Linked DNA regions of Homo sapiens. The protein of the gene in region 3 interacts with the protein of the main gene of each other region in a pairwise test. Each region holds a gene or a part of one and is shown on either strand. Other genes may lie near its edges.

The links. The genes of interacting proteins can lie anywhere in the genome.
Region 1: the proteins of AP1M1 (region 3) and ETV6 interact in binary tests that used the Homo sapiens proteins (3 or more experiments, as listed by UniProt).
Region 2: the proteins of AP1M1 (region 3) and RUNDC3A interact in binary tests that used the Homo sapiens proteins (3 or more experiments, as listed by UniProt).

What each region holds. Positions count from the first base shown.
Region 1 is NC_000012.12:11,644,764-11,652,673, reverse strand, and holds the start of ETV6 (transcription factor ETV6), read right to left. Parts: upstream 3,001-7,910; 5' UTR 2,547-3,000; coding exon 2,514-2,546; intron 1-2,513. UniProt on the Homo sapiens protein: Transcriptional repressor; binds to the DNA sequence 5'-CCGGAAGT-3'. Plays a role in hematopoiesis and malignant transformation.
Region 2 is NC_000017.11:44,311,601-44,318,600, reverse strand, and holds part of RUNDC3A (RUN domain-containing protein 3A), read right to left. Parts: intron 6,022-7,000; coding exon 5,906-6,021; intron 5,498-5,905; coding exon 5,349-5,497; intron 5,184-5,348; coding exon 5,098-5,183; intron 3,867-5,097; coding exon 3,777-3,866; intron 3,673-3,776; coding exon 3,592-3,672; intron 3,447-3,591; coding exon 3,281-3,446; intron 3,150-3,280; coding exon 2,992-3,149; intron 2,217-2,991; coding exon 2,079-2,216; intron 1,983-2,078; coding exon 1,876-1,982; intron 1,565-1,875; coding exon of another isoform or gene 1,478-1,564; intron 1,117-1,477; coding exon of another isoform or gene 1,097-1,116; exon of another isoform or gene 740-1,096; intron 506-739; coding exon 363-505; 3' UTR 1-362. UniProt on the Homo sapiens protein: May act as an effector of RAP2A in neuronal cells.
Region 3 is NC_000019.10:16,200,896-16,207,974, reverse strand, and holds part of AP1M1 (AP-1 complex subunit mu-1), read right to left. Parts: intron 4,517-7,079; coding exon 4,360-4,516; intron 1,635-4,359; coding exon 1,567-1,634; intron 1-1,566. UniProt on the Homo sapiens protein: Subunit of clathrin-associated adaptor protein complex 1 that plays a role in protein sorting in the trans-Golgi network (TGN) and endosomes.

The DNA of each region.
Region 1 (7,910 bases), on a different chromosome or scaffold from region 3:
GAACTGTCTGCCTGCTGACCCGCTACTTGTAAGGAATGAAAGCAAGTGAGGACGGTTTCAGGAGTGGAGAGGAGGACTGGGAAAAACCTCTCCACAGTGAGAGCCTTTTGTGTCACAGGAGTTCGGTATATCAGGTTCATCAGCTCATCCTTGAAAACCTCTGACATTCGTTCTTCACTACACAGAAAAGCATATTGTTTACTGGACTCTAGAAGCAAGCAACTTGCTTGTGGGTTACCAGCAAACATTTTTTATTATGCAGTCACCGTACCACATCCCAAGGACTAAATGAAACGCAGCACACATCACCAGAACATTTCAGATGACCTGGAATAATCCCAGTCCTTGATCTCTAGTGCTTATTATTGGAACACTGAATTAAACAAACTCCATGGAAAGATACTCTTCACATACGTTCACCTAGACACATGCAGTCTAAGCAAATACATACTCGTTCCATAAAGAACGATCCAAAATAAAAGTGATTCTTTCCTTTCTGGTAAAGAACATTAAATCTATTTTAATTACATAGAAGTACACAGTAATGAAAAGAGGCACCCTGAAAGAACTGAGTTGTAAGCAATAAGGAAAAAAATGATATGCAAATTACAGACAATTTTCATGTTGCATTTAAGAACGCGTTTTGCTTGGGATTGGTTCTGTATGTGAGTAAGGCAAGGGACTGTTGTACTCTTTTTCCGACTGGAGCACAATGAAACAAACCACTCAGTAGCAGTCTGCAGCCAGCACACCACCATAAGCCCATCAAAACGGTGGGGATGCAGTATAGAAGAGGATCAAGAAACGTCACAGAAAGCATTGTTTTTTGTTGTTTTTGCCCTAAAGTTACTGATCTGTAGTTGGCAGATTTTCCTGATGTCGGGTTTATTGCCACTGAGCCAAATACAATTTATTTATTGAATATCCTACTATTTAGTTACCTCTATGTTATGAAGCGTCAAATAAATTAGATTATCTATACCGCAGGATTTTCCTGAACTCTGTGTAGAATCTAATTTATACCGCAAAAGAAACTGGTTTTGAAGTATTAATATCAAAGTACCCTAAGTTCTTTAGTGTGGCACGCCCCATGCCCACAGACATACATACTGCTACCTCCAGTTATGTACAAACACAAAAGCCTAAAAGTTCCATTAGGCATTTTTGTGAGGCAAAAACAAAGAAGCCCAAACCACCTTTTGATTTCACATTAGCCTATCCTCAAACCCATGAATATCTTTTCTGATAAGAAACACCAAAATGTGATTCTAATTATAAAAAACCTAGTAAGCACGTATGATGAACTACTGCGTTTCCCCTACACAGACTCTAATTGAAAGGCAGTGTTAAACCAGGAAGGGTTTTTCTAACTCCCCACAGACGAAGAAAACAGGTTATTTGTTCATTGTTGCTGTAGTGTCCATTCAGTGAACACACATTAAATAGGCCAAACCAAAAACAAACTTCAGCAGCTTCAGCCTCTCACAAGAGCGGAAGGCTTTCTACCTGGGTACTGGTGGAACAGCGAAATGAATAAAGTGTACAATAAATGCAGCGATGGGAAAAATAACACGGGTAGATGGATAAATCATCCTGCCTCCCAATGGTGGCAAACTTTACAACAACTTTTTAGAAGCAACAAACCGCAGCACCACAGTCTTTACAGATATATAGACATGCATACACACAACTACTGGGTAGCCCAGCAGTGTGTTTACAAACATCTACCGCCCTGCATTTACAGAGTGCTGCTTAGATAGCCTCTCTGCACTGTCAAACACAGAAGGTCATTTTGCCTGGTTGCTTAGTTCTTCCTCTCCCTCCATCACAGGAGTTTTCTACTTTGGGATTGCTCAACTTTCATATGGATCGGAGTAAAATAACTATTCAGCAACTTTATTCACCTTGGTTTTAAAAAAAAATTCATTGTGCAATGCCTAGGAAAAGCTGACACCAGGACTGTCTCTCCGACAGCGCTTGCAATTACAATCAGACGAGGGGGAAAAAAATCCTGTCTGATCAGACCCAGAGAGTCCTTTAAAAAAATAAAAAGATTCTATCGCAGTGGAAACTGAACAACTTTTTTTCTAAGACGACCACCCCTCGGGAACAAAAGTTATATTTCAGTCACATGTTGGGTGTAGGAATAGGGAGCAGGTTTTTTTTTTTTGTTTTTTGTTTTTTTTTTTTTTAAGCGCACTAATTACGGGGGTGTTTTACGGTTCTGGAGACAATCCGGGTTGCTCTGACCAATTGTGACCGGCATTTCATTGTCAAAAAGCAAGGGGGTGGGGGCCGAGGAGCCGGCAGGGGCTCGGCGGTGGGGGGGAGTAGCAAGGTTACGCTAAAGGGTACAGCAGCCACCGCGAGCTGCATCTCTTTCCCTCTCGCCCCAAATAATTTCCTGCGAACAGAGCAACTGCAACAGCCTGCTCTGAGGAGCCCAGCACGACTGCCCTGGCCGGTGCAGCTCAGGGTTTCCACCACGTAGAAGGAGGGGAGAAGATTTTTACCTTAATGCTACACTGAGCAGGAGTCTCAGACATGTCTCACAGCGAGAGAGATCAGGAAGTTCTCAGGTTTTTTCCACTTTCCTTTCCTCTCCCCAACCCAGAAAGGCTCCACGGCCAGCCAGACGCGGTCATTTAAGAAGTTTCTTCCAGCATCTCTCCCGGCAGCCGCCCCGGGGGTCTGGAGCGCGCGGGGCGGGGCGGGGCGGCCGGCGGAGTTGGGCGCGCGGGGCGGCGGGGGCGTGGGAGACGGGCCCGAGCGCGGCGGCGGGGTCTGCAGGTCGCGGCGCGGCGCGGGGACCCGGGACGCAGCCCGGCCGGCCTCCCGGTCTCTCCTCCCACCCGCAGCCGGCGCCCCCGCCCCCCGCCCTCCCGCGGCTCTCCCTCGCTCTCTCGAATGTTTTCCTTCCTGGAAGAGAGAAACTGAAAGGCAGAACTGAGAAAGCTCTTTGCTCATTGATCTTGAGAGTTTCAGTGCAGAAACTGACGTGAATTCCCAGCACTGAGCTCTGCCTCTTAAAGGAGCCACCAGGAAATAAAAGCTCGGGTTACAGCCCGGCATCGGGGAAATAAAAGCTGCGCGGGGGAGGGGCGGCCGCGGGGGCGCGGGCGGAGGAAACCCGGGTAGCGGGGCCGCGTGGGGCCGCGGCTGCGAGCGGGGCGAGCGGCGCAGCCCCCCAGGCCGGCCCCCGGTGCGGGCGCCCGCCCTCCACGCCGCGAGACCTCCCGCTGGCCGAGCCAATTTCCGGGCTTAAGGAAGACACCTTTAAAAAACGTTACATTGTGGCCCCAGACACCACAAAACAGGTTTTATTAAACTCCTCCCACCTCCCCTGGCTCCGTCTCTTGGATACATCGATGTGCACAAGGGTTTTGAAACGTTTCACTAAGCGCAGATGCAACGAAAGTAATTATCTATGAAGGGCCATTCCGGTTAGGACGCGGAATCCGAAGGAGGAAATAAAACAATAGCCTTTGTTCTGCTTCTCGACCGCTGCCTCTTTAAGAGAATCCACCAGGAAATGGGAGATCGGGTTACAGCCTGCACACGGGGAAATGTGGGGAGAGCGGGCGCCCGAGCGCGACGCCGGAGACAAAGCCGGGGCGGCCGCGCCGCAGACGCTGGGGGACCGTCGGGCGGGGGGATTCCCGGGGAAGGTGGGCGCCCCGGAAAGAGGTGGCGCCACGCGCCCGCTCGGGGATGCGGCGGCCGCGGGCGCTTCCCGAGCCGAGCACGCGCTCCGGGAAGGGAAGGCTGCAGGGCAGTTATCAAAGGCAGCTGAGTTCCTTTTCCTGACCTCCCCCTCCTGTTTCGAAATCCACTGCCCTTTTAAAGAAATAGCGGCCGCTACCAACCGAAATAGGTGACTCGACTACAAAGTTGGCAGGACGTGTTCCTGCAGATAATACCCCTCCCCAGGACCGCTTCTCTGAAACCGTCATTGGCCGGTTGATTGGATGGCCCTGGGATCCTGCAGGGGGAGGAATATTTGGTTGGAAAAGCAGTTGAGGGGGGTTAAGGCCGTTGGGGCTGAAGGGTCTAGCCCTGAGCACAAGTGATCTGATCACTCTATTATTTTTATTATTATTTACACTCTCTTAAAGTGTCCACCACAAAAAACTGAGAACATTATCATTATACTTAAATTCTAACCTTGTTAGCACATATTGGGGGTTTAATATGTGGATGTGTAATGTAAAAGGAAATTTGTTATAATTTCTTAATAGAGTAATATATTAAATATGGTATAAATATGTATATACGCATATATACCCATATATGTTACCTGCACTGGACCAGGACACATTTCCCCGAGTCTCCCCACCCTACAGATTTTTCCTACCCACTTTCCTTCACCTCTTCACATTATCAAATGTGTTGAGACTTGTACACACAATATTTTTGTTCACACATTGATCAGATCATTACGAACGAGGCTAGGGTGGGAAAGAGTGCTGTTGCTGGGATGATGGGAACTGGTGGTTGTGAGCCTCCAGGAACCTGAACAGGTTTTGTCAACTGGTAGTCCTGCCCTCTCTCCAAGAGATCTCTGTCTTGTCCACACCGACTCCTCTGCCTTTGACCACCCCCTTCTCCCCTTTAACAATTTTCTGTATTCTTTTGCTTTTTTTTTTTTTTTTTTAAGACGGAGTCTGCTATGTCGCCCAGGCTGGAGTGCAGTGGTACGATATCGGCTCACTGGAAGCTCCGCCTCCCGGGTTCACGTCATTCTCCTGCTTCAGCCTCCCGAGTAGCTGGGACTACAGGTGCCCGCCACCGCGCCCGGCTAATCTTTTTTGTATTTTTAGTAGAGACGGGGTTTCACCGTGGTCTCAATCTCCTGACCTCGTGATCCACCCACTTCGGCCTCCCAAATTGCTGGGATTACAGGCGTGAGCCACCGCGCCCGGCCTCTTTTGCTTTTCTTAATTGATGTTGCAGACATTGGTTTAGATGTCCCATTGCTAGGTTATGTCTTCCACATCACTTAGCAATGTGATCCCTGACAACACAGTCACTAAGCTTCTGTAAAATGGGGAGAAATAGTACCTAGCTCATAAGATTATCTTATTAAATAAGAAAATATATACAAATGCCTCCTTAGCAGAGAGCTGCACAATATATGTGCTCAATTCAAGTTGGCTACAATTATTATTTAACCCCAGGACTAAATTAGTTCTCGACTTTTCTTCCTAACTCCTCCTCAACGTCTACAAGTGATTCATAGAAGTAGTAGTTTGAAGTAGAATGTTTGTGGTTCCAAAGCAAAAAACATAGTTGACAACTGTAGCAAAAACTACATTTAGACCAGGGGTTGCCAATCTCTGTAAAGGGCCCAGCTGTAAATGCCTTAGTCTTTGTGGGCCAAGAGACAAAATTGAGAATGTCAGGTAGATACTTATATAACACGAAGAAAAAAAAGTCCACAGTTTTTTATTTTGTCAATTCAAAGTGTAATAATAGCAATTTTAATACAGGTATAATAATGAAAGGCATGGAATTCTTTTGGGGGGAAAGTAACATTTCACTTGGTGTTCAAAGTGTTCTTTCATAAAAATTGACTGCAGATGTTCATCTATTAATGCTGATTTTTTATGAGATTTTATGTACTTCATTTTTGAAATGTCTTTCTACCCAGACAGATACCGCCAAATACTGATACCAACCCATGAGCACATGATTTTACTTGAGTGTATTCATTGCTTAGAAGGCATTTCTAAAATTCTATTAGAATTCTATAAATTCTCTTGATATTTCCCCTTTAGCATGCCATTACATTGCAGATTAATCACTTCCAGTTGAAGGTTAAATGGAAGCTTCTCAGTTGCACAGTTAAGTAAATTTTAAATATGAAAATTTCCTTTGCACTTGCATTGAAATTCAGAAAACACTGTTGGTACTGTAGTTTGAGTTCAGAAAAACATAACTGCTGCAAATTTGTGTTGGAATGGAGATCTTGCTTCTTGTTTTAACTTTTGACAGCATGAGAAGTGTGTAAAACAGCTTGACATTATTTGTGATTCAAACAATGTTAGTTGTGTCAAAATGATTTTACTGCAGTTTAAGTTTTGCATATAAGCTCTATTTTGCCTTGTAGTTTTAGGTTAAATTCATAAAGAAACATTATTGAGTCTGTAGTAAAAGCTTATTTGCAGAGCCATTCAGTGTTCAATAACAGTGGTTGAGGGAAGTTTTTCTCATTCATTCATTTCCATTTGTCGCTTGTTTCTCTGTTCCTTGTTTTCTGAGAACTTATGGGTAAATTGGATTTTTTTCTTTCATATTCCATTTAAATTACTAGATTGTCTTTTTAGATTTTCTTCTTTATGTTAAATATGGTGGTTGCTTTAGAAATTACAATTTGCGTATGTTATTATCACAGGCTACCTTTAAATAATATTATTCTATTTTATGAATCTGTAAAAAAGTTACAATGTAATTCCATTTATCCCTCTCCCATCCTCTGTATTGTTGTGTTATATTTTACTTCTATATGTTATAAAATTCATTTTACATTGTATTTTTATGGTATTTAGAAATTTGTAAATATATGCATATAATGAATGTATTAAAGTATGTCTCTTTTTAATTTGCCCAGATATTTATCCTTTCTAGTACTTTTTTATTCCTTTTTGCAGATCTGGTTTTCCATCTGGTATCTTCCCTTTGGCCTCAAGAACTTCACTCAGCATAGCCTGTGTGCTGTTTGTTGGAGAAGTCTCTCAGCTTTTGTCTGCCTCTAAATGTCTTTAGTTCATGTTCACTTTTGAAGGGTATTTTTACTGTACGTAAAATTTTATGTTGACATTTTCTTTTCTTTCAGCACTTTAAACATGTCATTCCTCTTCTGACTTCATATTTTGCTAAAAAATCACTTGTAGTACATATTTTGGTGCCCCTGTGTACAGTGTACACTTTTTTCTGTAGCTGCTTTTAAGATCTGCTCTTTAAATTAGGTTTTCAGAATTTTGACTATGATGTACACAGGAGTGGTTTTCTTTGCATTTATCATTTATTCACCTTGATGTCAGCTGCAGTTATTGGATCTGTGGGTTGGTATCTTTCATTAGTTTTAGAAAATTGTCATTTATTATCTGTTTGAATATTTTTACACCCATTCTGTTTCCTTTTTTTATTCTTAATACAAGTATTAGACCATATATTATTGTTCCATGTATCTCAAATACTCTGTTTTATTTCCTTGTATTTCCTTTTTTTTTTTTTTGAGATCAGCTCAGGCTGGTCTCGAACTCCTGTTCTCAAGCAATCCTCCTGTCTTAGCTTTCAAAGTGAGATTACAGTGCTAGCCACCACACCTGCCTTGTTTCAATTTGAACGCTTTCTACTTATTTCTTTCTAAGTTTTCTTCCTCTGATTTTTTCCAATTTACCGTTAAGCCTATGTAATTCATTATTTACTTTCTTGCTCTGTCTCCCAGGCTGGAGTGCAATGGCAGTCTCAGCTCACTGCAAGCTCCACCTCCTGGGTTCACGCCATTCTCCTGCCTCAGCCTCCGGAGTAGCTGGGACTGCCACCATGCCCAACTAATTTTTTAATATTTTTTAGTAGAGACGGGGTTTCACCCTGTTAGCCAGGACCATCTTGATCTCCTGACCTCGTGATCCACCCGCCTTGGCCTCCCAAAGTGCTGGGATTACAGGAGTGTTCCACTGTGCCCGGCCTGATGGTTTCCTTTTTTGACTACAGATCATATTTTCTTTTTTTGTTTTTTGAAATGGAGTCTTGCTCTGTCGCCCAGGCTGGAGTGCAGTGTCGCGATCTCGGCTCACTGCAAGCTCCACCTCCCGGGTTCACACCATTTTCCTGCCTCAGCCTCCCTAGTAGCTGGGACTATAGGTGCCTACAACCACGCCCAGCTAATTTTTTTTTTTTTTTTT
Region 2 (7,000 bases), on a different chromosome or scaffold from region 3:
CAGACAGATGGAGAGGCTAGAGACTGGGAGGTGGGGGTGTGGAAGCTGGGCCACCAGTTCCTGAGGGGGCAGGGGAGATGAGTGAAGGAGCGCCAAGGTCACCAGAAGAATGGAGCAGGCTTCCCCAGGGGCTCCCTGTGGCTTGGGCACCCCTGCCTCCTGGCCCAGCGTGCTTTCTTCCGCAGCCCGTGCTGCCAAGGCAGAAAGCTAAGGTGAGCAGACGAGATCTTCCCCGAGAGAACCCTGGCTGGGTGGGTAGCGTTCTCTGGAAGGGTAGCCTGGATTGGGGGACTCTTGTTGAAGAAAGGTGGCAGGTGTCCATGGCCCCTGGCAGGTGGGGCTGGCACTGCCCATGCTGTTCCTCAGCTGGGGCTCAGTGCTGGGCTGCCCTCGGGACTGTCGCTCACCAGGCACTCGTTGGATTTGAAGCTCGCCAGGGACTTGCAGCTGGGAATGGAGGCCAGGGAGCCGCAGAGGCCCAGCATGGAGGGCGTGGGGTCCTTCCCTGGGGAGAGAGGGCAGGTGAGGCCAAGCGACCAGTCTACATGTGTGGGAGTTGGTAGAGGGGTGGGCAGTGAAGGGGCAGCCCTCAAGTCACCCCCCAGGAGACCTTGGCATATTCCACAGCATTTGCCATTTTCAGTTAAACTTTGGTTAAGCACCTGCCTGTGCCAGGCACCGTGCTGGGGACACTGTATTGTAATCGTCAGTTGATGTCTCTGTCTCCCCGTGAGGGTCATCCTCTCTCTTTGTCCATTTATTAAATACACAGTGAGCACTCGCTCTGTTCCAAGCACTGGGGATACAGAGAACGGACAAGACACGGTCCCTGCCCTCATGGAGCTCACAGTCTGGTGGGGGAGACAGACACACAGACAATCACAAACACAGTGTGATGGGGCTACATGGCCACAGCCTGCCTTGTCTCAAAGAAGATCTAGGGTCATCCAATACAGTGTGGTTGCTTATAAAAAAGAAAAGACAGGATATTCAGGCATAGGGAGAACTAGGATGGGAAAAACCAAGGTGAAGCCAGGGATGAGGTCAACACAAAGTGCATGCGTTGAAGTCCTGGGCATTCGCTCGAAGGGAGCCACTAATTTGGCTCTGAGCTTCCTGGCAGCCAAAGAGAAGGGGGAAACAATGGTCAGGCAAGTAGTTCACAGTGTGCATGAGATAAGAGCAAATTAGTCTAAGGAGTTCCCCGAGAGTTTGTGAGCCCCCGAGGATGTCATGACACTAAAAAACCACTGAGCCCTCACCATGTGACAACATTGGTGATTATCAACATCCCCATTTACAAAGAATAGACTCATGGAGGTAAAGTGATTGACCAAGCTCACATGGTCAGAGGAGGCACAGCCAGATTTATGCTGGGTTCTGCATATGCTGTGTTCTGCCACCTCAAAGTAAGCTCTCGATTGCTGTGCTAAACCCTCAAGAAAGGCTGAGAGAGGCCGGGCACAGTGGCTCACACCTGTAATCCCAGCACTTTGGGAGGCCAAGGTGGGTGAATCACTTGAGGTCAGGAGTTCGAGACCAGCCTGGCGAAACTCCGTCTCTACTAAAAATACACAAATTAGCCGCGCGTCTCTACTAAAAATACACAAATTAGCTGCGCGTGGTGGCAGGCGCTTTTAATCCCAGCTACTCGGGAGGCTGAGGCAAGGGAATCCCTTGAACCCGGGAGGCAGAGGTTGCAATGAGCTGAGATTGCGCCACTGCACTCCAACTTGGATGACAGAGTGAGACTCCGTCTCAAAAAAAAAAAAAAAAAAAAGACTAAGAGAATGAATGAGGACATGCCTTGAGGCCTCAGGGCCTTGCCTCAGCCCTTTCTGGAGGGGTACTGGGTGTTGGGTTGGGGGAGCTCACCGATGGGACCCCAGGGCTCCTCGTCCCGCGTGCCCTCTCCCAGGCGCTGGGAGTCCGAGCTCAGACTGGCTTCAGCTGACAGCGGCTCCGTGCTCATGAAGCTGTGTCTGCGGCAGAGCGAGAGCTGGTGCGCCGGTAGAGGAAGCCCTTCTTCCCCAGGACGACCCGCTCTCAGGCCCAAGCCCCACCTGGCTGGGGCTTACCTCCGGTAGAGCTTGGAGTTGCTGGCGCCCTCGGCCCCATTAAGCGTTCCCAGTGAGGGCCATTGATTGACCAGGGGTGTAGTGAGCTCCTTGGAACCCTGGGCCAGAGGGGCGTGGTCACTGGGGATCAGACCTGTCCTGGGAGGGGGAGGAGGAGTCAGGCCTGGCTGGAAGTAGGAGAAGTGAGGAAGGGAGATTCAGCAAGGGGATGAGGGAGGGGTCAGGAATGAAATCTGAGCGGCAAAAATGGGGATACGGTGTTGGGGTCAGTGGGCCAGATCCCGGGAGGAAGTGGAGGTGGTACTGGGGTGGAGGGGTGACAGGGATTCGTGCACAAATATTGGGAGTTGGAGGGAATGGTGCAGTGTTGTTGGGGTCAGCTGGGGTGATGGGGACGTCAGTGGAGGATAGTGTGGGAATCCCTGAAGTGTAAGATCGTCTTGGGGATCTTGCCGCAAGATCAGGGTGGTGGAAAGGCGTAGAGAAGAAGTGTTACAGGGATCGGCAGGGGTGAGGTCGGGGGTCACGGCGGATGATGACGGTCAGTGAGCCTGTGGTGCAGGTGAGTGAGGCGATGAATGCAATCGTGTTGAAGGTTGCAGAGCAACACCGCAGGTCCTTGTGAGTGACGTGGGGTCCCTGCAGTAAGGTTGGATGGCCACTCTAGCGGAAGATAACTGAAGGTGAAGGGTGGGCTCTGGCTGTTGGAAGTCACTGGATCTTATGCTGGGGGCAATGTTAGAAGATCATTGTGGGCATCTCGGGGTGGGGCTGGCTGGATCAGAGGGTTGATGCTGGAGAGGTGGGTGCTCGTGTCGGGTGATGTTAGAGTCGATGGAAGTGAAGATGGGGTTCACCCGGTGATGTGGTCGGGGCGGCGGGGGTCAGGGGTTAGGGCAGGCCGTGCGCTCACAGCTGCTCCTGCAGCTCCAGGATCACGCCTTCCAGCTCCCGTTTCTCGCGCTGGTTCTGCGCCGCCGCCTCCTCCAGCTGCAGCTGAAGCCGCCGGTTCTCCGCCTCCAGGTCCTTCAGCTGCGACTCGCGCAGACGCACCAGCTCCTCCAGGTAGCCCTGCGGGGCGCCGGCTCAGCCCGGGCGGCTGGGAGGACGTCCCGGCCGCGGCCCCCATCCCCGCCCCGCCCCGGGATGCCCGGATCCCCCGCCCGGCCCGCCCGCCCCCCGGGCCCGCCGGCGTCGCGCACCTTCTGCGCGTAGACGATGCGGAACTTCTGCTCCATCTTGTGCCACTTGCTGTACCAGCTGTCCTCATCGGTGACGAGCGGGAGGTACGGGTGCTCGGGCGAGTTGTCCTCGCTCGTGCTGCTCTCGGCGCTGTGCCGCTCCTCCTCGTCCGTCAGGTAGTCGTAGCTTGGGAGAGGGAGCAGTGGGCACGGCCGGTCCCGCCCCTCCCCCCGCGCGTCTGCGCTGGCCGCTGAGGGCGGTGGGACCAGGACGTCCCCAGGATGTCCCGAGGCCCCGTCCCCCGCCCCGCCGCAGTCATGGAGCCGCTCACCTCTGCGTGAACTTTAGGTAGGGCGTGTAATCGATGACCACGGGGGTCTTCCCGTCCAGGACTTCCCCCTTTAGACAGAAGCTGAGGCAGAGGAGCCACAGGGTTGGAGGTGGGTGTGAGGGGTTGGGGTAGGACATTTATGGGGGAAACAGCCCCCTCCACCACTGCCGTCAGGCAGACCCCACCTGAAGTCGATGGCGCTCAGTCCGATCAGCATTCCGGTGAGGATGGTGGCTTCATCCCGCAGCATGATGGCTCCAGAGTCATAGAACCGTCTGTGGGGAGGCAGAGGGCCAGAGGATGCAGCAGGCCCCTGGAGCGCCCCCCCCCCCCCCAGAGCTGCTATTGTTGGCTTACTGCCACCCCATCCTGAAGGAAGGCCAATTCTCCTTCCTGATCTGCACGCAGGCCTGGAGCCTCTCTCCCCCTTCAGCCTGGGGCTCGCACCTGTGGCCCCATCACCTAGAATGGGTGTTCCCTGAGCCGACTCCTCCCTCTGAGCTACCCCTTCCTCATCAAGTACTGGGTTACCCAGATCCTTCATATCAGGAAGCAAGTCTTAATCATTAGTGCTTGGTATACAGTAGGTGCGCAAAAAACGTGTTAACTTGAAACGTGTAGACTGAGGAATGGAATTCAGTAAAAACATCAGGCTGGGTATGGCCAATTGGGATGGGGAGGTATATGCCCCCCGCCACACCCAGACAGCTTCAGATGCACCTGCCCACACAGGCACACTCCTCCTTGTAACCCCTTGCCTCAGGCACCCAACCTCCCTGTGAACCCACAGTGCAGGGATTGAACTCCCCATATAAGGACTCTGTGTCCGTGAATAGCAAGTACAGAACTGCTTTCGTTGTTTGGAGAGACAGAAGGGCTGTGTTGTAGATCATGGAGCAAGCCAACACTTGAGATGGTGCATGGCTGAGGCTCATCCAGAGGTGTGCAAGGGTGGAGCGTGCTGGGCATTGATGGCAAATAATGGGCATTAGATTTGACTTGCAAGTGGTGGTGGTGGTGGTGGTAAAAGTTTGTCCTGGGGCCAGGAGCGGTGGCTCATGCCTGTAATCCCAGCACTTTGGGAGGCCAAGGCGGGAGGATCACCTGAGGTTGGGAGTTTGAGACCAGCCTGACCAACATGGAGAAACTAAAAATACAAAATTAGCTGGGCATGGTGGCGTATGCCTGTAATCCCAGCTACTCAGGAGGCTGAGGCAGGAGAATCGCTTGAACCCAGGAGGCGGAGGTTGCAGTGAGCCGAGATCGCGCCATCGCACTCCAGCCTGGGCAACAAGAGCGAAACTCCTTCTCAAAAAAAAAAAAAAAAAAAAGAGTTCGTCCTGGGACTGCAGGCCAGGCTGGAAGAGGGAAATCAGCCATGTGTGCTGGTGCTGGGACTTGTAGTCCAGGAACTGAAGGATGCTGCAGGAACTTAAGGATCAGCTGTGTTTGGGCAATGCAGGTGCACTCTGAGACCTGTGGTCTGAGTTGCCTGGGAAGTCTGACCTGGTGGTCCGGGTGTCACGCAGAGCCGTGGTGATGTATTCTGACATGCGCTTCTCCATCAGTGCCACCCGGATCCATGCCCGGCCCTGGAAATCATGTTCACCTTTACTTGCTGCCCCAGAGGGACTCATGTGTCCAGCATCAGGTGTGGGCCCTTCTCCCCTGGGCTGTGCACAGGGGGCAAAAACCAAGAAACAGGCAGGCCCCCTGTGTCCAGAGCAGAGAGCAGTTGCTTGCTTCAGGCCCCTCACCTTGGCCCGGGCTGTGCTGATGTTCTCCATGTTCTCGATGCTGCTCACACAGTTGTTGGGCACTTTGCTGCAGGCCAGCCGGATATAGTCCCAAAAGCCCCGCTGCCCGTCTGAGCTGAACCAGCTCACTGGACCTGCTGGGGCACAGGCTGAGCCAGGGCAGGGAGGGGGCTCAGCAAGACCAGGGAGTTTGGAGAGGGTCCATGTAGTGAGGCACTCACATGCATAAGCATAAGCAGCCTCCTCCCACAAAGATCTGTGCACACACATGCACGTGTGCAGTGGGCACCCCAGCATATCGCTTGCCCATGATGGGGATTGTAGGCCAAAGGCCTCTCCCTCTTCCCAGATCTGTACACAAGCTTCTGTGCATGGCCCAGAATGGGGGCCAGGGTCAATGAGGGGGTTCAGAGTCCATGGAGTATATCAGAAAGAGGTGGCTGGGAGCTAAAGGTTGGGAGTTGGGGAGGGACCGCTGGGGGAGGGGCGCTGGGGGAGGGACCACTGGGGGAGGGGCGCTGGGGGAGGGACCGCTGGGGGAGGGGCGCTGGGCCCACCTTTGAAGCGGTGGCTGAGGATCTGCTCTAAAATGGCTGCAAAATTGACAAACTCCTCCGATGAGTCATCGATGGGCTCCGCTGTGTACTTCTCCAGCAGCGTTTTCACAGAGAACCTGGGCGGCGAGGTGGGGAGATGGGGCAGTGGGGTGTCAGGTGAGGAAACAGGTGATGGAGGGAGAGACAGGGAGCAACCGGCAGAGAAGAAAGGTCAGGAAGGGCATGGATGTGGTGGGGGGCAGAGCGAGTGGGGAGACAGGCAAGACTACAGTGACCATAGAGGTACCGTGTCATGTGGAGTGAGAGGGTGGCAGATGGGGAGGAAGGGTGACAGGTGGGAGACTGATTGACAAAGTGGGTGACAGGAGAGGTGACAGCCAGAGAAAGGAAGCTTCGGGAGCAAGGGGTGAGAGGGACTGAAAAAATAGGAAGATGAGGCACAAGCCGGGGGCGGTCCAGGAGCCCCTTCCCCATAGACCACCCTTCAGGGTCTGTGTGTGCGAGGCCTGGGTCAACTAGGTGTTAGAAGCCAGTGTGTGCCCCACCTGAGCTGTCTTCTGTGATTGCTGGAGCAACCTTCAGTCCCTTTTGGGGATGGGGGTCACCTGTACCAGGGCATGTGAGTTGGCACTGTGCACATGGAGTGTGGGCATGCGCAGGTGGCCAGGTGGGCTCCCAGTACACAGATACCCCCTTCCCCCCTTTCCTTCCCGGCTTGGCCTCCCACACACCAGCTGCCCAGAACCAGGCAGTGCAGAGCTGGGCGGGGGTGGGGTGGGGAGGTGCGGGGTATGGGCCTGACACAGACACTGGGCAGGAGGGGGCATTGGCAGCAGATCCCTGGAAGGGGCTTGGGGGCCTGGCTTCTTTGGGAGGAAGGGACTAAGGGAAGCCTGTGGGGCTGAAGGACTGAAGCCATGCAGTGCCCCCTCTCCAGTCCTGTCTAAGCCTCAGGCTCCCTCTGCAGTCACTACCCCTGCAATCTCCCCCTGCCATCCCTGCAATGGAGTAGGGCAGGGATGAGGACACAGTTCCTAACATCCCATGATTTCCCTGCTGTGGGTGGCAGAGCAGGGGCGGGGTGTCCAGGGAAAT
Region 3 (7,079 bases):
GAGCGGACGGATGAGGAATGAATGAACGCTTGCACACATTCATTTGCCCGCTAAGTCCTACCAACAGCCTACTTCCCAGGCTCGGTGGTGTGCTACAGGGCCCTGGACCCAGGTTATGGGGCAGGACAGCAGTGGCTGGCTGTGGGGTGGGGCCAGGCTGGAGCCACTGCAGATGTCCCGAGGCCTTCAGAAGCTCTGCGTTCCCATTCTCTTCCCTGCCCAGACACCCGCAGACAGGCAGCCCCTCCTGAGCGACTGTAACTGTCATCCCTTTCTGAGTCTGGAGTGACTCAGGCAAGGACCTGATGAGCTGCCATCTTCCCCATTTCAGTGGAAAGCTTGATGCATCTTCCCCATTTCAATGGAAAGCTCAGAAGGTTAAGGAAGGGACGCCAAAGAAGAGGGGCTGTTAGAAGCACTTTTGCAGGCACAAATGCTGAAGGAAGGAGCGTCACTAAAACAGAAAGGCACAGCCCAACCCTTGGGTGAGGACCTTCCCCTTCCCGCATCCCCCATTCTCTGATCTGCTGACCCCTGCGCGCTTCAGGACTGTGATCACCCGGCCTCTGCTTGGAAACCACAGGCAGCACAGCCAGGCCCAGCCCTGCCTGTGACAGCATCACCGGTCCAGTGAAGGCAGCCCTTGGCCTGCACGTGGGGCCTTCCCAGGTGACCCTCGGCTCCTTCCCCAAGCCCTCACCGCCCAGGCTTGCCCCTGTTCCCCAACATTCTGCACAGGCAGCATCAGTGAGGGATGAAAGCTTTCCCAGGCCCAGCACAGGCCTCCTGGGTCCTGTTCCCCACTTTCGTGAGCCCCACAGCCCACCTCGGCCAGGCCCATCCTCTCCGGGAAGCCAGCAGCAGCCTCCTCACTGGCCTCAAGTCCTCCTTCTGCTCAGCAGCCAGAGAGGCTGCTTTAGATCAAACCACGTCTTGTCAGTCTCCTGCTTAAAGCCCTCCACTACCTTTCATCAGAAGTGGAATGAAATCCACACTCCTGTATAATCCGCCCTCTTCCCAGCTGACCTCAGCCTCATACTCTGCCACACGCACGCTGGCCTCCCTAGCTGCACCACACATACACCTGTCCTGGCGCCTTCACCCTGGCTGCTATCTGTGTCTCACTGGCAGCCTGGGCCTGGCGTGTCAGCTCTCTCCAAGGTGGGCGTCAGGCATCTGTGCCTTGAGAGCCCCCTGGGAGATTCTGAGGTGGGCTCAGCTCTGCAGCTCTGCTGGTTATTCCAGCCCCATCCAGCTGGTCACCCCACATCCTTCCAAAGCTCGCTGACCCCTGCTTGTCCCTTCCAGGGTCAGGGCACCCCTGCTCTGAGCCCTACCTTTTCCTGTTCACTTTCCTTTCTTCCCCACGGTAGGGGAGCAACGTGAGCTATAGAATTCCACAGGCGTGGGGAGTTGGGACTCCCCTTTCCCACTTCCTGGGCTTCCAGCCCCAGTGCTCCCTGGGGATGCCACAGCTCTCTGTAGGGTGGCCAGGTATGGGGAGGTCCACAAGCAGAGCCAAGACAACCTCCACCCAAGCCCACGGCCCCTCCGAGCGAGACTCACCTGCACCACCTTATAGAGGAAAGAAAAGACCAGCGACACGCACGCGTTCTTCTTGGATGTGGCAACCACTGCATGGCGGCCACAGTTAAGGAGCATTCAGAGGCTGGGGCTGCTGCCTGGAAGATCCTGGTTCATGGAGGGACCCCCTAACCCTCACAACCCTCAGAGCCTTCCCTATCCCCACTCCCAGCCGTTTACTTGGCCCATGGTGGGCTACAAAGCTCCTGGTCCAAGCTAGACCTGGGACACAGGAGTCACCAGCCAGATGCGCTCCCAGGCCCCAGGGAGCACTCACTGAGATGGAGAATCACAGGGATGGCAGGTGGCACAGGGCACCTGTCCCGGCGGCTGGGTGAAGGGCTGCCTTGAGCAGGGAGGGAGTGAGGCTCATTCCAGGAGCAGAAAGCAGGACACACTGGCCCTGCTCCTCCAAAGCTGACCTCATCATGACCCTGCTGAGGTCCAGGGTCCCCCGGCCAGACTCTGTGGCAAGCAGCCAGGGCCAATTCTGGCTTCAGCCCTTCCTGGCTTTGGAAACACAAGCCTTGGCCCATGAAATAAACCTTTCTAGAGAAACCTTGATATTTCTCTCCTGTGTAATGGAGGCCTGTGAATGAACTCACCAAGGCAATGTAGGTGAGATGTCTGGCACAGATGTTCCCTTCTGCCACAGGAGCCAGCCCCTGCCTCCCAGGGTCAGTGTGTGCTGGGCGCTTCCTATTCCTTTTTCCCTAATGGGTCCCCGGGCCGCCAGAGAAGGCTGGTTCTTCCTCTGTAGGCCCATGCACTGCACCCTGGACATCCCTGTTCATGGCACATCTGTGCTGCCTGGCTCGTCTGCCCAGGAGTGAGCTCTAGGAGGGAGGGTGGGGGCTGTATCCTCTCCCTTCCCGCCTCACCCCAGCACAGCACAGGGGCCCAGGAAAGGGACGCTGGCCCAGTCAAACGAGTGCTGGCCTCCCTCCTGCTGCCTGGCAATGTGCCCTCCCCAGATGCTTTATAAGCAGGGGCAGTGGGGGCCTCTCACCTTCTCATGGGTGCCTCTCAGCCACGGCCTTGCTGAGCACTGTCCCGGCTGGGGGTGAAACGATGTCCACTAAGCCAGAGGGGTGAGCCCTCCCTGTCTCTTCCCTAGATGCCCAGGTGTGAAATGTGGGGGCCCAACCAGAAACTGATCTGATGGCTCCTGCTGAGCTCAGACCACAGCCACCTCTCCCTCTCCCAATACCTGGGCGGCTTCAGAGGACTGTCAGTTCCCTGGGTTAAAAGCCACCTAGGCCGGGCACGGTGGCTCACGACTGTAATCCCAGCATTTTGGGAGGCTGAGGCGGGCGGATCACGAGGTCAGGAGATCGAGACCATCCTGGCTAACATGGTGAAACCCTGTCTCTACTAAAAAAATACAAAAAAATTAGCTGGGCGTGGTGGCGGGCGCCTGTAGTCCCAGCTACTCGGGAGGCTGAGGCAGGAGAATAGCGCGAACCCGGGAGGCGGAGCTTGCAGTGAGCCCAGATGGCGCCACTGCACTCCAGCCTGGGCGACAGAGCGAGACTCTGTCTCAAAAAAAAAAAAAAAGCCACCTAAGATCATCTTCAGAGCTATTCTCAGGGCCTTCCAGAGCCAGGTGAAATCTACACAGAGGCACACCACAGGGAGCCCTGGGCCAGCACGGCCCACATGGGAATGTGCACACCGGCCACCAGGAACAAATCTTCCTACAATGCAGATTCTGACGGGGCAGGGCTGGGTGGAGCCTGGGATTCTGCATTTCCAAAGGGCTCCCAGCGGATATTCTGGCCCGTTGGCCACACTGTACTGGCAAGGCCCCAAGTGTCTCCAAGAACACAGGAAAGGGCACAGAGCCCATGCCTGCTGGGAGCAATATGCACAAGTCAGTTCAACTGACCCGAATGGTCCTGCAGTGAGGGGTCGTTGTTCCCACTGAACTGTGGGAAGGTGAGGGATCCCCCATGGCTGCTGGAGCTGGGGCTCAAACGGGCTGTGAGTGGCAAAGCAGGCCCTTCCGCAGTAGTGTGGGTACTGAGATGGGCTTGCGGGTCTGCCCAAAGCTGTGGGGTGGCCAGTTAGACCTCCTGGATAGAAACTGGCTTGGCCAAGTCTCCCCATGGGCCCAAGGACAGGAAGGGTGGGGGGCTCTGAGATCTGGGCGGGGCTGTACCCCACCACCCCTCCGTGGTCCAGGCCACTTCCCCTCCCACCTGCACGATGGCCCCAGCCTACTCCCCACCTACCCATGTCCTCTCCTGTCCCCACAGTCTTGCCCCACTCAGCAGCCAGAAACCTCCAGAAGACACACATCTAAAAGCCTCCAGAGACTTCCTGTCACATTTCAGATGATGTTCTTTGAGACCCCAGACCCCGCTGACCACTCCAGCCTCGCTGCCCTACACGCCCCCTCTCCAGCCACCCCGAGTGCAGCTGTTGGAATGAGGCTCTTCCCTGCAGAGCCTTCACCCACGCCTAGTGCCTGCCCACCCCTCCAGCTGGCAGAAGCCAGGCCTCCCTGCAGGCTTCCTCCAGGGTGTCATTTCCCTTCCTGGGCCCCTGGGCTGAAGAGGTTCAAGTCACACCTGCTCCTCTCCCCACACCCATCACACATGTCATCGTGCATTGTCTGCCTGTCTCCGCAGGCAGCAGGGAGCTCCAGGAGGGCATGGCTGTGTCCAATGCTTGCGCTGTGCACAAACCAGCCCTGCTTGCAGGCGTGTGGATATGCACACACACCAACACCCACACAGGAGTCCCCTGGGAGCACCCCCAGCAAAGGGATACGATACAGGTTGTTGTGTTTGATCCACATGAAACGGACCCCCCCGTGGGCCAGGATGGGCGACAGCATCCCCTCCTCCTCCTTCTCCATCAGGATGGGCATGAAGTGCTCCACCTCTGACATGTCCACGTCGCCACGGTAGTTCCGGCAGATGAGCACCTGGGGTGGGGAAGGAAGAGAAAAGATGCTTGCATTTTCAGTTCTACAATCTGGGGGCTTGGGGCAGGGGGTGAGATGCACCACCCTGCTTCGCTCTGGGGACTCCGGTCATGGCCACTATCCGCAAAAGAGCAGGACTTGAGGCCGTTCTGATCTCCATCCCCCAGGGAATTCCTGGAGAAGAGCATCTCCCAGTGTGAATGCCCACAGGGGCCACTGCAGTTCTTCGCAGGGTGAGGGTAGAGGCGAACTCTGCAGCAAAGGTCCAGGACTGAATCACCCAGAGACATCAGGTTAAGCAATGCCTCACAAGCTCTCAATGCAGACCTTCTCAGAGCCTTTGCCGGGCCAACGCACCTTGCTCTCCCGCCTGTGTCAGGGCGCCCACTCCCGCTGAAGGTTCGTATTTACTGAAGTCCACAGGTGGCCTGAAGGGAGAAGCCCTCTTCCTGGTCTCTCTCTTTCATAGCCTGTGGGTCAGGATATACAGCATCCAGAACCCCTGTCCACTGCTGATAGGAATGGAAAATGGGACAACTACTTTGGTGTAGTCTGGCAGTTTCTCAAAAAGTGAAACCCAGAGTTACCATACGATCCAGTCATTCCTCTCTCTGGTATTTACCCAAGAGAAATGAAACCACATGTCTGCACAAACACTAGCACGAGAATCTTAACAGCAGCTTTAATTGAAACAGACCCAGACTAGAAACAATGCCAATGTCCTTCAGCAGGTGAACTAGAAACAAACTGTATCCGTGCACACCATGAGAAGCATGCCTCAGCAACGGAAGGGATCGGACTCCCGATACACAGGCGCATCAGAATCACTGTGCTGGCTGAGAGAAACCAGACAAACGAGAGCTCATCCTGCATGACTGCACGTGTATAAAATCCTAGAAAATGGTGATGAAAAACACATCGGTGGGTGCCTAGGGATGGGGCTAGACAGCAAAGGGGTGTGAAGAAGCTTTCGGGGGCGATGGAATGTGTGGTTATGGCTTCCCACATGACTGAGCTCATCAAATTGTACACTTTAGATAAGTGCAGGTTATTAATGTAAATTATACCTCATTAAAGAATAAAAAGGAGGTCGGAAGTTTTGCTAGCCTGGGCATGGCTGCGGTTGGAGATGCTGCCTGGAGCAGCTGCAGCTCTTGGGGCCTGCAGGACAGCCAGCTGCAGGACTCAGCAACATGCTGAGAAGGCCATTGCGGCGCTGACCATCCTGGGAACCACCTGCCTCAGAACTTGGCATTTCATCACACGCTGCCTTTATTCTCTCAAGGCGAGACTGGGGGTGGTGCGGGGTGGCACCTTCCTTTCCTAGTGTCTGCTTCGTGGCCTGTGGAACTGATTGGAGGGAGGCAGGTGATGACGTGTTGAGGGAACAGCCCCTCCCCCTGCTGTCACTCTTGACCCCCCAGGTCCTTCCTCACAAAGGGTGACAGGGCTCTTCCTACACAGAAGCCAGACGGGGTCTCTCCCCCACTGCTGAACTGCCACTTACCCCAGCCTCCCCGGCACTGAGAACAAAGCCCAAGCCCGTCCCCATGGCTCCCAAGGACCAGCGTGGTCTGGCTCCTCACAGCCCCTCTGACGCCTCTCTGCCTGCGCTGCCCTGGTTCACTCTGCTCCAGCCTGGCCCCTTAGCTGGTCTCTGAGTGATCCACATCTGTTCCCACCTCGGGCCTTTGCCCTGACCTGGCTCTTCTCATTTCTCAAGCCTCAGCTCAAATAACACCTCCTCTAGGAAGTCCTCCCAGCTGGGCGCGGTGGCTCACGCCTGTAATCCCAGCACTTTGGGAGGCTGAGGCAGGCGGATCATCTGAAGTCAGGAGTTTGAGACCAGCCTGACCAATATGGTGAAACCCTGTCTCTACTAAAAATACAAAATTAGCCAGGCGTGGTGGTGCATGCCTGTAGTCCCAGCTACTTGGGAGGCTGAGGCAGGAGAATCACTTGAACCTGGGAGGCAGAGGTTGCAGTGAGCCGAGATTGTGCCATTGCACTCCAGCTTGGCTGACAGAACGTAACTCCATCTCAAAAAAAAAAAAAAAAAAAAAAAAAAAAGAAATCCTCCCTGCTTGCTCTGGCTGAGATCATGTCCCATCCCTCTGAACCCTGACCCCTGCTTTATCCCTATCACCTGGTGCATTAAACATTTATTTCTATCCTCCTTTACTGTCTGACATCCCCTGAGAACAGCAACTACTCCTGTCTCATTCACAGCTGTTTTCCAGCACCCAGAAAGGGGCCTGGACCATAGTAGGTGCTCAGTAAACATTTGTGGAGTGAAAACAGGGGTGAGGAGACAAAGGAGGCGAGGATAACGTCCAGGTCTCTTGTGCAGATGGCTGAATGGGTGATGGCATCACTGAAATGGAAAGAGAGCAGGTACAGGGAGTGCATTTAGAAGAATGCTGAATTTATGGTGGCGGCGGGACCTCTCTGGTGTCTCAGAGGCCACTAGATCTCCAGAGAAATGCTGTGAACAAAATTGAGAGTCACTGGCCCATGGACATGAGTCAAAGCCCACCTGGGAAGAGTGACAGCATGGGGAGGC